Homo sapiens: one gene and its partner. The protein of the gene in region 1 purifies or fractionates together with the protein of each later gene. This does not show direct contact. Each region holds a gene or a part of one and is shown on either strand. Other genes may lie near its edges.

Evidence for each region.
Region 2: the proteins of H1-7 (region 1) and MRPL13 purify together in Homo sapiens (co-immunoprecipitation; 2 studies listed by BioGRID and IntAct, with this or other methods). This does not show direct contact.

What each region holds. Positions count from the first base shown.
Region 1 is NC_000012.12:48,324,204-48,330,821, reverse strand, and holds H1-7 (testis-specific H1 histone), read right to left. Parts: upstream 1,843-6,618; 5' UTR 1,531-1,842; coding exon 763-1,530; 3' UTR 543-762; downstream 1-542. UniProt on the Homo sapiens protein: Essential for normal spermatogenesis and male fertility. Required for proper cell restructuring and DNA condensation during the elongation phase of spermiogenesis.
Region 2 is NC_000008.11:120,394,689-120,400,191, reverse strand, and holds the end of MRPL13 (large ribosomal subunit protein uL13m), read left to right. Parts: intron 1-4,066; coding exon 4,067-4,088; 3' UTR 4,089-4,755; downstream 4,756-5,503.

The DNA of each region.
Region 1 (6,618 bases):
TCTTACTACATAGTGGTCCAGCAGTTTTCTGCTATAGCACATTACCACTCCATCGGGAATTAATTATACACATATTTAACTCTCAGTGATGAGTACCTATCCTATGCCAGGCCCTATGCTGGATGCTTTCATACACTTATTTAACTGAGGATTGACATAAGAATATCTTTTAAATTAAAATAGGTTATCAATTCAAGGCAAAAACTACAAACTCATTATAATCAATTTTGGGAGGACTTTGTCCTAAAAGGAATTTCAGGTAAGAACACTTTGAATCAGTGGGACCACTCAACTTAAAGACTGTCTACTCTTTTCCCAACATGCCTTCCTCCCCAGAACTCAATTTGGATTTGCTAGAGTATCTAACAATACTTCAACACTTGTTAAGCTGCTGGTTTTCCTCTGTTTTCTCTCCTTCTAAAAGACATTTCTCTGAGTTCTGCAGCAGGAACAGAATCTCAGCTAATTTACTGTCTTCACTGAACGTTACCACCACCCACCCCTTCCCTTCCAGGTGCGGCAAAGAGGAAACAGACACAAGGTGGTCTAGAGGTCCATTTCATTTCAATGAGTGTGACAGCCGCTCTTCTTGGGGCCTATGGGGGAAAGGCATTGGTCCGTGGTGGGAGTGAAGCTGCTCCCACAAGATGCATTCCCAACTGGATCAGGAAGACCTTCAGATTTAGGGGAGGTCTTTGTGGAAGTCTTTAGTGGAGTCTTCCCCTGCCCGCTAGATGTCCGGTCGGTTTTAGCCCGCGTTGGCTACTGGATGGTCCGCTGTGCGGGCTTCTTGGGCTCCTGCTTCTCTTCCCTGGGCTTGGAGCTTCGCCTCTTGTCCTTCCCTGACCTCGGCGTGGTGTCTTCCTTCACGGCCTGTCCTCGCCCCTCGTCTGCCGCTGTCGCTCCCGCTTCCTCCTTGGCTCTGGCACACGGCGGCTCCTTGGCTCTCGGCCTTGCCCTCCTGGTCCTCCTCGCCCTGGCATTGGCCTTGGCTTTCGCCCTCGCGTTCCGTCTCCACACTTCTCTGGCCTTCCTGGCCGCCTTGCGAAGGGGCTGGCGGCGCCTCCGGGAGCTCCGGGGCGCGGCTGGGGTCCTCCAGGGAGCGCGCGTGCCCTCCTCTTGCCTCGCGCGTCCCGGCTTTCTCCTGGGCTTGGGAACCTTCCAGACCCTGAAGTAGCCGGCGGCGTCGCTGCCGCTGACCCGGAGGAGCGTGGCCTTGGCCTGCCCCCTGGGCGCTTCGTGGCGGCCGCTCTTCCTGCGCACTTCGTAGCCGGCGTTTCGGAGCTCCTTCTTGAGAGCTGCCAGAGTCAGCCCTTTGTGAGTGGAGATGGCCTGGAGCACCAACTGGGACACTCTGAGCACGGAGCTTGAGCAGCCCCTCGATGGTCCCCCGACAGTTTTTTCCGCTGGCAGCTGAGTGGCTGAGTGTCCTCGGGATTCGCCACTGGGCCCAGGCGCCTCAGCCATGGCCCCACTCCCGCCTCTGCGGGGCCACCGGCTTTGGGCCTCACCAGTCAAGGCCTGTTCCATAGCTGAGGTAGACTGGGCCACGTCACAAAGGCAGGCCTGGCAGAGATTTTCAGGTCCTAATTATGGGGCTGGCATATCTCACCCGGGGAGGGGCCCTTTTCACTTATAATAACCAATCAAATGCCACTTCCTTCTAGGTCTAAACCAATCCAAGTCTTCAGCGCCTGTCCACCCCCAACAGTCACCTACCTATAGAGTCTCCAGGGTTTTGTTCCCAAATCAAACTTACTGATCTCGATCTCCACCGCTTTCTTTAGTCGGCTATTTTGTGTGTGTATGTGGTCCTGCAAACCATCTACCCACAGTTCCTTAAGGTGAGCGAAGCTGCTCCCAACTATCCAAAACAAGCAACACACTGCCTGTAGAAAGTACACGGGGTAGTCCATGAAACACAACCCAGATTAGAAACTCCCACCTTTAATTCCACCAGTCAGGTATCTGAAGTCATGTCTCCCTAATTCTACACAGTGGATTCTGTGCAAGAGCATGAAGTAAAAAAGGAACCAATTGTGTGATCCCTCTACCCTAAACACTGATTCCCACACCTGGGAAATTTAGATGACGCATTCAACTGTACTGAAACAATCTAGATTTCACATCGCCTGAGGATACTGGTCTAATCATTATTCTTTGAACATACTGTGTTTTTTTCCATCTCATCCCCTCTCTTGGATTTCTCATCCTCTTTGTCTGCCCAGATAAGTCCTGCTCATCTTTCAAGGTACTGCTACATTATCCTTCTTCACTGAAGACTCCCCAAACTCTTTCAAATGATTTCTTGCCTCTTAACTACCACAACCACCAAAATTACTTCTGCAATCTTATATGGCTTTTTCTTTATTTTAAATGAATTTGGCATTAGAGGGTATAATGTGACACAATATTTTTTAAAAAGAAAAAAACTCGTACTTGGAGCTGGAAGATATGGATGCATATCCTAGCTCTTTAGGAGCCATATGACATTAACAAATCCCTTAATATCAGTGGTGTGGCTGTCAGATGGATGTGCCGGCCATCTGACTTCTTATCTAACATCACATTCCCTTCCTACCAACATCACAGAATTATTGCAAAATTTCAGAAGAGGTAGATGAACAAGGGCTACCTAAATATAAGGAATAAATTTACTTTACTTTGAATGTTTCTGTCTTGTATTTCCAACTAAATAAAGATATCCTCAAGAGCTATAGTCTTTGAACTTCTATGTCCCATGCTGCACCTAACAATATGCTTCATTATACACAGCGGGCATTTAATTGAGCCTGCTTACATCATTCCTCTCTGGTGAGGAGAGTTTCTCTAGATTCAGAAAGAAACTTCCAGAAGATCAGGAGAAAGGAGCAGAGTGAATTTCAAAGGGTTGGAAATGAAGGGGGCCAAGTAAGGATTAGCTTATCAAGGACCTATTTTGGACACAGTTTAGTTGGGAATAATTTAAAGTATTATTCTAAGAATACTTCAAATTGCCAAGCATATCATACTTTTCCAGAGGGCAATCACATACATTCATCAGTCACAGGCTAGACAGTGACAGTTTCTTTTAAAAATCAAAGCTCCAGGAAGTAGCTTAGACCAGTGCTTTTTTTTTTTTTTTTTGAGACAGAGTCTTGCTCAGCCCAGGCTATGTAATGGCACAATCTTGGCTCACTGTAACCTCCACCTCCTGGGTTCAAGCAATTCCTGTGTCTCACCCTCCCAAGAAGCTGGGATTACAAGCATGTGCCACCACATCCAGCTAATTTTTTTTTTTTTTTTTTGAGACAAAGTCTCACTCTGTTGCCCAGGCTGGAGTGCAGTGGTGCAATCTCGGCTCACTGCAACCTCCGCCTCCTGGGTTCAAGTGATTCTCGTGCCTCAGCCTCCCAAGTAGCTAGGATTACAGGTTCCTGCTACCATGCCCAGCTAATCTTAGTATTTTTAGTGGAGATGGGGTTTCACCAGGCTGGTTGGCCAAGCTGGTCTCAGACTCCTGACCTCAGGTGATCCACCCACCTTGGCCTCCCAAAGTGCTGGGATTACAGGCGTGAGCCACTGCGCCTGGCCCTTATTTATTTATATATTGGTAGAGACGAGGTTTTGCCATGTTGGCCAGGCTGGTCTCGAACTCCTGGCCTCAAGCAATCCACCCACCTCAGCCTCACAAACTGCTGGGATTATAGGCATGAGCCACTGCGCCCAGCCAGACCAGTGCTTCTTAAACTTCAATGTGCATATTTAATACCCTGGGATACTCATAAAGTGCAATTCATAGGTCTGAAGATAGGGCTAGAGGTTTTACCTTCTAAGAAGCTTCCAGGTAGTTCTATCTGGTTAAAACACAGGTGTGTGTTGAGGGGCAGGGAGAGGGTAGACAATGAGAAGGGGAGTAGCAGGAGATACGACTGAAAAGGTAGTTAAGGGACATTGGGAAGGACAACTAGTGATAATGACAGAGCTGTAAGTGGTGACACGGTAGCAAGTGGTAGAGTTTGGAACCAAACCTAAGTCTACTTAATCCTAAGGCCTAAGTTCTTAAGTACTGTGTTAGGTTTCCTTTTCTCTAAGGTTGACCCTTTCCCTATTATATATCTCCACCATAAAGCAGGGGCTAGTTTATCTCCATAATCACAGTTCAGAGCTGCTCAGATTCAAGAGTATCTAAAGGCACTCACTGTACCTTTTCCCATCTTTAAAATCAGGGCACAGTAATGTGACCCTGAGGATTTACATGGGCAGGGGACTACTGCATCAGCACAGGGACAGTGCACCCAGGAAGGACTGCCAGATGGAAAGGCAGGACCACATTAAGCAGGATTTCTCCCATTTGTATAGTCTCTTGGTCTAGCTACCCTTCCTGGTTGCAGAGACCAGTGGCCACAGGATGGGGCAAACACCAGATAAAAAAGAGGCATAACTGCTTGCTTTGAGAATAAGGAAGAAAATGAGTGAAGTCAGACCCTTGAAGTCAGCTGATCCAGAGAAAAATAGACTGACTGTACATAATGGTGTAATCATGAAAGACAAGAACAAAATCAACCAACCATGTTTACTGATGCCCCTGTGATCAGAAGGGAGGCCAAGTTGAAACCTTTGGGAGAGGCGAAATCAAAGGAAAACGAATAAATGAAAAAAAATCGAGGAACAGCTCCAGTCTAAGCTCCCAGCGTGAGCGACGCAGAAGATGGGTGATTTCTGCATTTCCACCTGAGGTACCGGGTTCATCTCACTAGGGAGTGCCAGACAGTGGGCACAGGTCAGTGGGTGCAGCGCACCGTGGGCAAGCCGAAGCAGGGCGAGGCATTGCCTCACTCCGGAAGCGCAAGGGGTCAGGGAGTTCCCTTTCCTAGTCAAAGAAAGGGGAGACAGACGGCACCTAGAAAATCAGGTCACTCCCACCCGAATACTGTGCTTTTCTGACAGGGTTAAAAACCGGCACACCAGGAGATTATATCCTACACCTGGCTCAGAGGGTCCTACGTCCACGGAGTCTCGCCGATTGCTAGCACAGCAGTCTGAGATCAAACTGCAAGGCGGCAGCAAGGCTGGGGGAGGGGCACCCCCCATTGCCCAGGCTTGCATAGGTAAACAATGCAGCCGGGAAGCTCGAACTGGGTGGAGCCCACCACAGCTCAAGGAGGCCTGCCTGTCTGCCTCTGTAGGCTCCACCTCTGGGGGCAGGGCACAGACAAACAAAAAGACAGCAGTAACCTCTGCAGACTTAAATGTCCCTGTCTGACAGCTTTGAAGAGAGCAGTGGTTCTCCCAGCACGCAGCTGGAGATCTGAGAACGGGCAGACAGCCTCCTCAAGTGCTTCCCTGACCCCTGACCCCTGAGCAGCCTAACTGGGAGGCACCCCCAAGTAGGGGCAAACTGACACCTCACACGGCCGGGTACTCCTCTGAGACAAAACTTCCAGAGGAACAATCAGACAGCAGCATTCACCGTTCACGAAAAACCACTGTTCTGCAGACGCCGCTGCTGATACCCAGGCAAACAGGGTCTGGAGTGGACCTTTAGCAAACTCCAACAGACCTGCAGCTGAGGGTCCTGTCCGTTAGAAGGAAAACTAACAAACAGAAAGGATATCCACACCAAAAACGCATCTGTACATCACCATCATCAAAGACCAAAAGTAGATAAAACCACAAAGATGGGGAAAAAACAGAGCAGAAAAACTGGAAACTCTAAAAAGCAGAGAACCTCTCCTCCTCCAAAGGAACGCAGTTCCTCACCAGCAATGGAACAAAGCTGGACGGAGAATGACTTTGACGAGTTGAGAGAAGGCTGCAGACGATCGAACTATGAGCTACAGGAGGAAATTCAAACCAAAGGCAAAGAAGTTAAAAGCTTTGAAAAAAATTTAGATGAATGTATAACTAGAATACCCAATAGAGAGAAGTGCCTAAAGGAGCTGATGGAGCTGAGGGCCAAGGCTGGAGAACTACGGGAAGAATGCAGAAGACTCAGGAGCCGATGCGATCAATTGGAAGAAAGGGTATCAGCGATGGAAGATGAAATGAATGAAATGAAGCGAGAAGGGAAGTTTAGAGAAAAAAGAATAAAAAGAAACGAACAAAGCCTCCAAGAAATATGGGACTATGTGAAAAGACCAAATCTACTTCTGATTGGTGTACCTGAAAGTGATGGGGGAATGGAACCAAGTTGGAAAACACTCTGCAGGATATTATCCAGGAGAACTTCCCCAATCTAGCAAGGCAGGCCAACATTCAGATTCAGGAAATACAGAGAACGCCATAAAGATACTCCTCGAGAAGAGCAACTCCAAGACACATAATTGTCAGATTCACCAAAGTTGAAATGAAGGAAAAAATGTTAAGGGCAGCCAGAGAGAAAGGTCGGGTTACCCACAAAGGGAAGCCCATCAGACTAACATCTGATCTCTCAGCAGAAACTCTACAAGCCAGAAGAGAGTGGGGGCCAATATTCAACATTCTTAAAGAAAAAAATTTTCAACCTAGAATTTCATATCCAGCCAAACTAAGCTTCATAAGTGAAGGAGAAATAAAATACTTTACAGACAAGCAAATGTTGAGAGATTTTGTCACCACCAGGCCTGCCCTAAAAGAGCTCCTGAAGGAAGCACTAAA
Region 2 (5,503 bases), on another chromosome or scaffold:
TGAGAAGAATGTATGTTCTGTTGTTTTGGGGTGCAGAGTTCTGTAGATATCTATCAGTTCTGTTTGATCCAGAGCTGAGTTCAGGTCCTGAATATCTTTGTTAATTTTCTGTCCCAATGATCTGTCAAATATTGTCAGTGGGGCATTAAAGTCTCCCACAATTATCATGTGGGAGTCTAAGTCTCTTTATAGGTCTCTAAGAACTTGCTTTATGAATCTGCGTACTCCTGAATTAGGTGCATATATATTTAGGATAGTTAACTCTTGAATTGAACCCTTTACCATTATGCAATGCCCTTCTGTCTTTTTTAATTTTGGTTGGTTTAAAGTCTGTTTTGTAAGAAATTAGGATTGTAGCCCCTGCTTTTTTCTGTTTTCCATTTGCTTGGTAAATTTTCCTCCATCCCTTTATTTCGAGCCTATGTGTGTCTTTGTTCATGAGATGGGTCCCTTGAAGACAGCATACTGATGGGTCTCAACTCTTTATCCGGTTTGCCATTCTGTGTCTTTTAATTGGGTCATTTAGCCTATTTACATTTAAGGTTAATATTGTTATGTATGAATTTGATCCTGTCATGATGCTAGCTGGTTATTTTGCAGACTTGTTTATGTGGTTGCTTCATAGCATCACTGGTCTGTGTACTTTAGTGTGTTTTTGTAGTGGCTGGTAATGGTTGTTCCTTTCCATATTTAATGCTTTCTTCAGGAGCTCTTGCAAGGCAGGCCTGGTGGTGACGAATTCCCTCAGTATTTGTTTGTCTGAAAAAGATCTTATTTCTTCTTCACTTATGAAGCTTGGTTTGGCCAGACATGAAATTCTGGGTTGGAATTTCTTTTCTTTAAGAATGTTGAAAATTGGCCCCCAATCTCTTCTGGCTGGTAGGGTTTCTACTGAGAGGTCCACTGTTAGTCTGACTGGTTTCTCTTCGTAGGTGACCTGGCCTTTCTCTCTGGCTGTCCTTAACATTTTTTCTTTTATTTTGACCTTGGAGAATCTGAAGATTATGTGTCTTGAAGTTGCTTTTCTCATGGAGTACCTTACTGGGGTTCTCCGGATTTCCTGAATTTGAGTTTTGGCCTGTCTTGCTAGGTTGGGGAAGTTCTCCTGGATGATAATCTTGAAGTATGTTTTCCAACTTGGTTCTGTTTTCCTTGTCTTTTTCAGGTACCCCAATTAGTCATAGGTTTTTACATAGTCCCATATTTCTTGGAGGTTTTGTTCATTCCTTTTCATTCTGTGTGTGTGTGTGTGTGTTTGTGTGTGTGTGTGTATTATTGTCTGCCTGTCTTATTTGAGAAAGATACTTGGTCTATTCTGCTATTAATACTTGTGATTGCATTATGTATTTCTCATGTTGTATTTTTCAGCTCCATCAGGTCAGTAATGCTCCTCTCTAAACTGGCTATTCTGGCTGTTGGCTCCTGTATTGTTTTATCATGATTCTTAACTTATTTGCATTGGGTTACAGCATGCTCCTTTAGCTCAGTGAAGTTCATTATTACTCACCTTCTGAAGCCTACTTCTGTCAGTTCAGCCATCTCAACTTCAGCCCAGTTCTGTGCCCTTGCTGGAGAGGTGTTGCTGTCATTTGGAGGAGAAGCAGCACTCTGGCTTTTAGAGTTTTCCAGGTTTTTGCATTGATTCTTTCTCATCTTTGTGGGCTTATCTGTCTTAGATTTTTGAGGTGGCTTACCTTTCAGTGGGGTTTTGTGGGGTCTTTTTTGTTGATGTTGTTGTTGTTACTTTGTTTGTTTGTTGTTTTTCTTTTAACAGTCAGACCACTTTTCCGTAGGACTGTTGCAGTTTGCTGGGGGATTGCTCCAGACCCTAGTTGTTTCAGTTTTTACCTTACCTGGAGGTATCACCAGTTAAGGCTGCAAAACAGCAATGATGGTAGCCTGTTCCTTCCTTTGGGAGCTCTGTCCTAGAGGGGTACTGACCTGTTGCCAGCCCAGACACTCCTGTAGGAGTTGTCTAGAGACCCCTGTTGGGAGGTCTCACCCAGTCAGGAGAGACAGGATCAGGGACCTGCTTAAAGCAGTCTGGCTGCTTTTTGGTAGAGTAGGTGTGCTGCACTGTGGGGATCCCATCCCCATCCGGACTGCTTCAACTGTCCAGAGCCAACAGTCTGGAAAGGCTGTGTCGACTGAACTGCTTAGATGTTGGCCACCCCTCCCGCCAGGGGCTCCATCCCTGGGAGGGATCAGAGATCTGTCTGTATAACCCTGGCTGGAGTTCCTGAAATTCCTGGAGTTGCTGGTGCTCACTGGCACCAACTGGTGAGGAGGGATGGATCGGGGTCCCACTTAAAGAAAAAGTCTGGCCACAATCTGGCACAGCAGCTATGCTGCATTATGGTAGACTCCTCCTTGTCTAGACTGCCTGGACTCCCTGGAGCTGGCAGGCTGGAATGGCTGTGTCAAATGAACTGCAGAAACAGGGGCCGTCTCTCCCCAGGGCTCTATCCCAGGGAGAGATCAGAGTCCTGTTCATATAACCCTGGCTAGAGTTGTTGAAATTCCTGCAGGGAGGCACCACCCAGTGAGGAGGGATGGATTAGGGTCCCACTTAAAGAAGCAGTGTGGCTGTGATCTGGCACAGCAGCTGTGTTGCATTGTGGGCGACTCCTCCTTGTCCAGTGGACTCCTTGGAGCTGGCAGACTAGAATGGCTGAGTCGACCTAACCACAGAAATGGCAGCTGCCCCTCCCCCCAGGAACTTGTCCATCTCAGGCAGTCTCCAGCCTGTTGCACTGGTTGGCTGGATTTCCAATCCAGTGAGGCTTAACTTGTGAGATGCCATGGAAGTGGGGCCCGCAGAACAACACCGCTTGGCTCCCTGGATTCAGCTCCCTTCCTTGGAGAATTTATGGATGGATCTCCTGCCTTACCGGGATTCCTGGGGCTAGAGTCTATTAAACTCCTGGGTCTCTGTGTGAGCCTGAGCAACTGCTCTGCCAAGACTCTGCACAGCTCTGTGTATTGGACCCAAGGCCCTGGTGGTGTGGGCTCACGAGGGTATCTCCTGATCCACAGGCTGCAAAGATCCGTGAGAGAAACGTGGTTTCCCAGGTGGGGGTCACACAATCACTCACTGCTTCCCGTGGCTGGGAGTGGGGGTTTCTTTGGCTCCATGCCACTCCCAGGTGGGCAGTCACTCCATCCTGATTTCCTTAGTTCTTTCTCCATGGGTCGAGTTGTCCGCCTAGTCAGTCCCAATGTGAAAACCTGGATATTTCAGTTGAAGGTGCTGAATTCACTTGCCATTTTCATTCCTCTGGGAGAACTGCAGACCACAGCTGCTTCTAATCAGTCATCTTTGCCAAAATATCTGTTTAGTTTGTTACCAACTTCCTTCAGAAAATTCCATATGGAAACCCAACACCTACAAATACACTTTTGAAAAGATAACAGGACAAATTGTTTGCATTTTATAATTTCCTATGTTTAATTTTGTCTATTGTTATAATTTAATACTTCTGAAAAATTTTTTTAATTGACTAATGAAAGCAGCTCTCAGGTGTGGTTAATCTTATAATTGCATAAATAAGGAAAACCAGTTATGTTTGTAAATAAATATTAAAGGACTGATGTTTATACACTTATTTTGTATATGGATCATAATGAAAATTAAATTTAGCATATGATAATATAAATAGGAAAAATCACTTACTCAAAATTTGCATTTGTACTATAAATCCATGTCTTCGTATGATTTTTAAACTCTTAAAGATTATAGTAATCTTTTCAATAAGGACTTTATAAAAGTTTAAAAATGGAACAGAGAAATTGAATTCAAATTATTAAGTTACTAAATACATTCTTATATAGGCACAAGGTGGCTTATATTTATACTTTCAAAAAGACTTTGGAGTTGTCACTTAACTGTTCTACTTTATAAAGATTTGATGTTAATGTTTTTTTTTCACCAAAAATTTAGATATAGTGTTTGTAGCTATTTCTTGGTGAACAGTTATTTTTATTTTAAATTGGAAAAATAATCCTCATCAGTCAGGAGAAAACAAAATAATGATTCATGAAGAAATATGTTGATTTTTTCTTTCAGACCTGAAGATTATCGGCTATAAGAGAATAAGAATTGCAGAAAATAACAGTGAAGTGATTGAAACTTTCTTCTGATGAGTTTCTCTAACCTACAGGATGGAGTAAAACAACTGCTACAGTTCAGCACCTGTTTTATGTGCCGAATCACTGTGGGGAAAGGTCAGGAAGGTATAGTCCTTCAATAGGAAATTGTAATTAAAATATAATTTTATAGAACCATTTTTATGTAATCTGATTTGAATGTTATAGTTGATAATAATAAAATCACTTACTTGGTTGACTATTTAGTGTTGCATTTAATGATAAAAAACAGACCCTGTGTATAGAATTGCAGTTACACATTCCAAAAATGCCTCTCCATGCAGATTTTCTCAAGTTTGCAGGTCACTATTCTTGTCCCTTGTGAACAAGCTCTACCTTCACTTTTCATTTCAGTGGCTTTTTTTATCTAACTTGTCATCCATCTAAATTCATATTTGCAGCTTAGTAGGGTAAAGTTTGCCCTGAAATATTTATAAACTGCTATCTTTTTCTGTGTCCCATATAGCCTCTTGGCCCCACAATGACACCAGAATACATAATGCCTGTCTGCTCGTTAGAAATCCCTCTTCCCTGCCAGTGATTCTGTTTGTAGACTCTCCACACTGTTTTCCCATATCTGTCCTGTTGGCTTCCATTCATCTCTGTACTGGCACTTAGATTGGGGTGCTGGGATGACTATTGCTTGTAAAATATGCTCTCTAGAAATTAAGATACTGAGCCACTGCATTTGAGCATTTTCATGGTGGTATTTTTTCATCTCTTGCCATAGCCAATCAAGGAATGAATTTCAGACCAACTTTCCCATTCATTCAGCAAACATATATTCAGTACTGCTATATACCAGGCACAGTGCTAGGTCCTGGGAAAACAGAAATCATACAAGTTGCCCCCAACACTTCCGTGCCCCATCAAAGAGTCTATTGTAGGATGGGAAGGAAGTATAGATAGATCTGTAAACAAGTAAAACTGGTTGTCAAATGTGCTAATACAACTGTGTGAATTATGATGTAAACATGTTTATTTAATAACTGCATTAAATATGACATAAGCACCTACTATGTGCCAGGCACAACCACTTTATATGAATTATTTAATTAATACATACTGTAATGGAGGTACTGTTATCCTCCCAATTTAAAGGGGACACAGTGAAGCAGCAATAAATTAAGTAATTTGGCTAAGGTAAAATCAGGATTTGCATCCAGGCAGTTGGACTTGAAAGCCCATGGACTTACCCACTGCTAGATGAGAAAAGGTGAATATGTTTCTGTATTACAAATTCTTTAACAAAGCACGTATAACCCGGCACAGGTTAACAACTACCATTCAAAAGGAAGTCTCAGTTACATTTTAAGGTGTTGGACCAAAAAGAACCTGCCCGTCTTACTTTTGATGG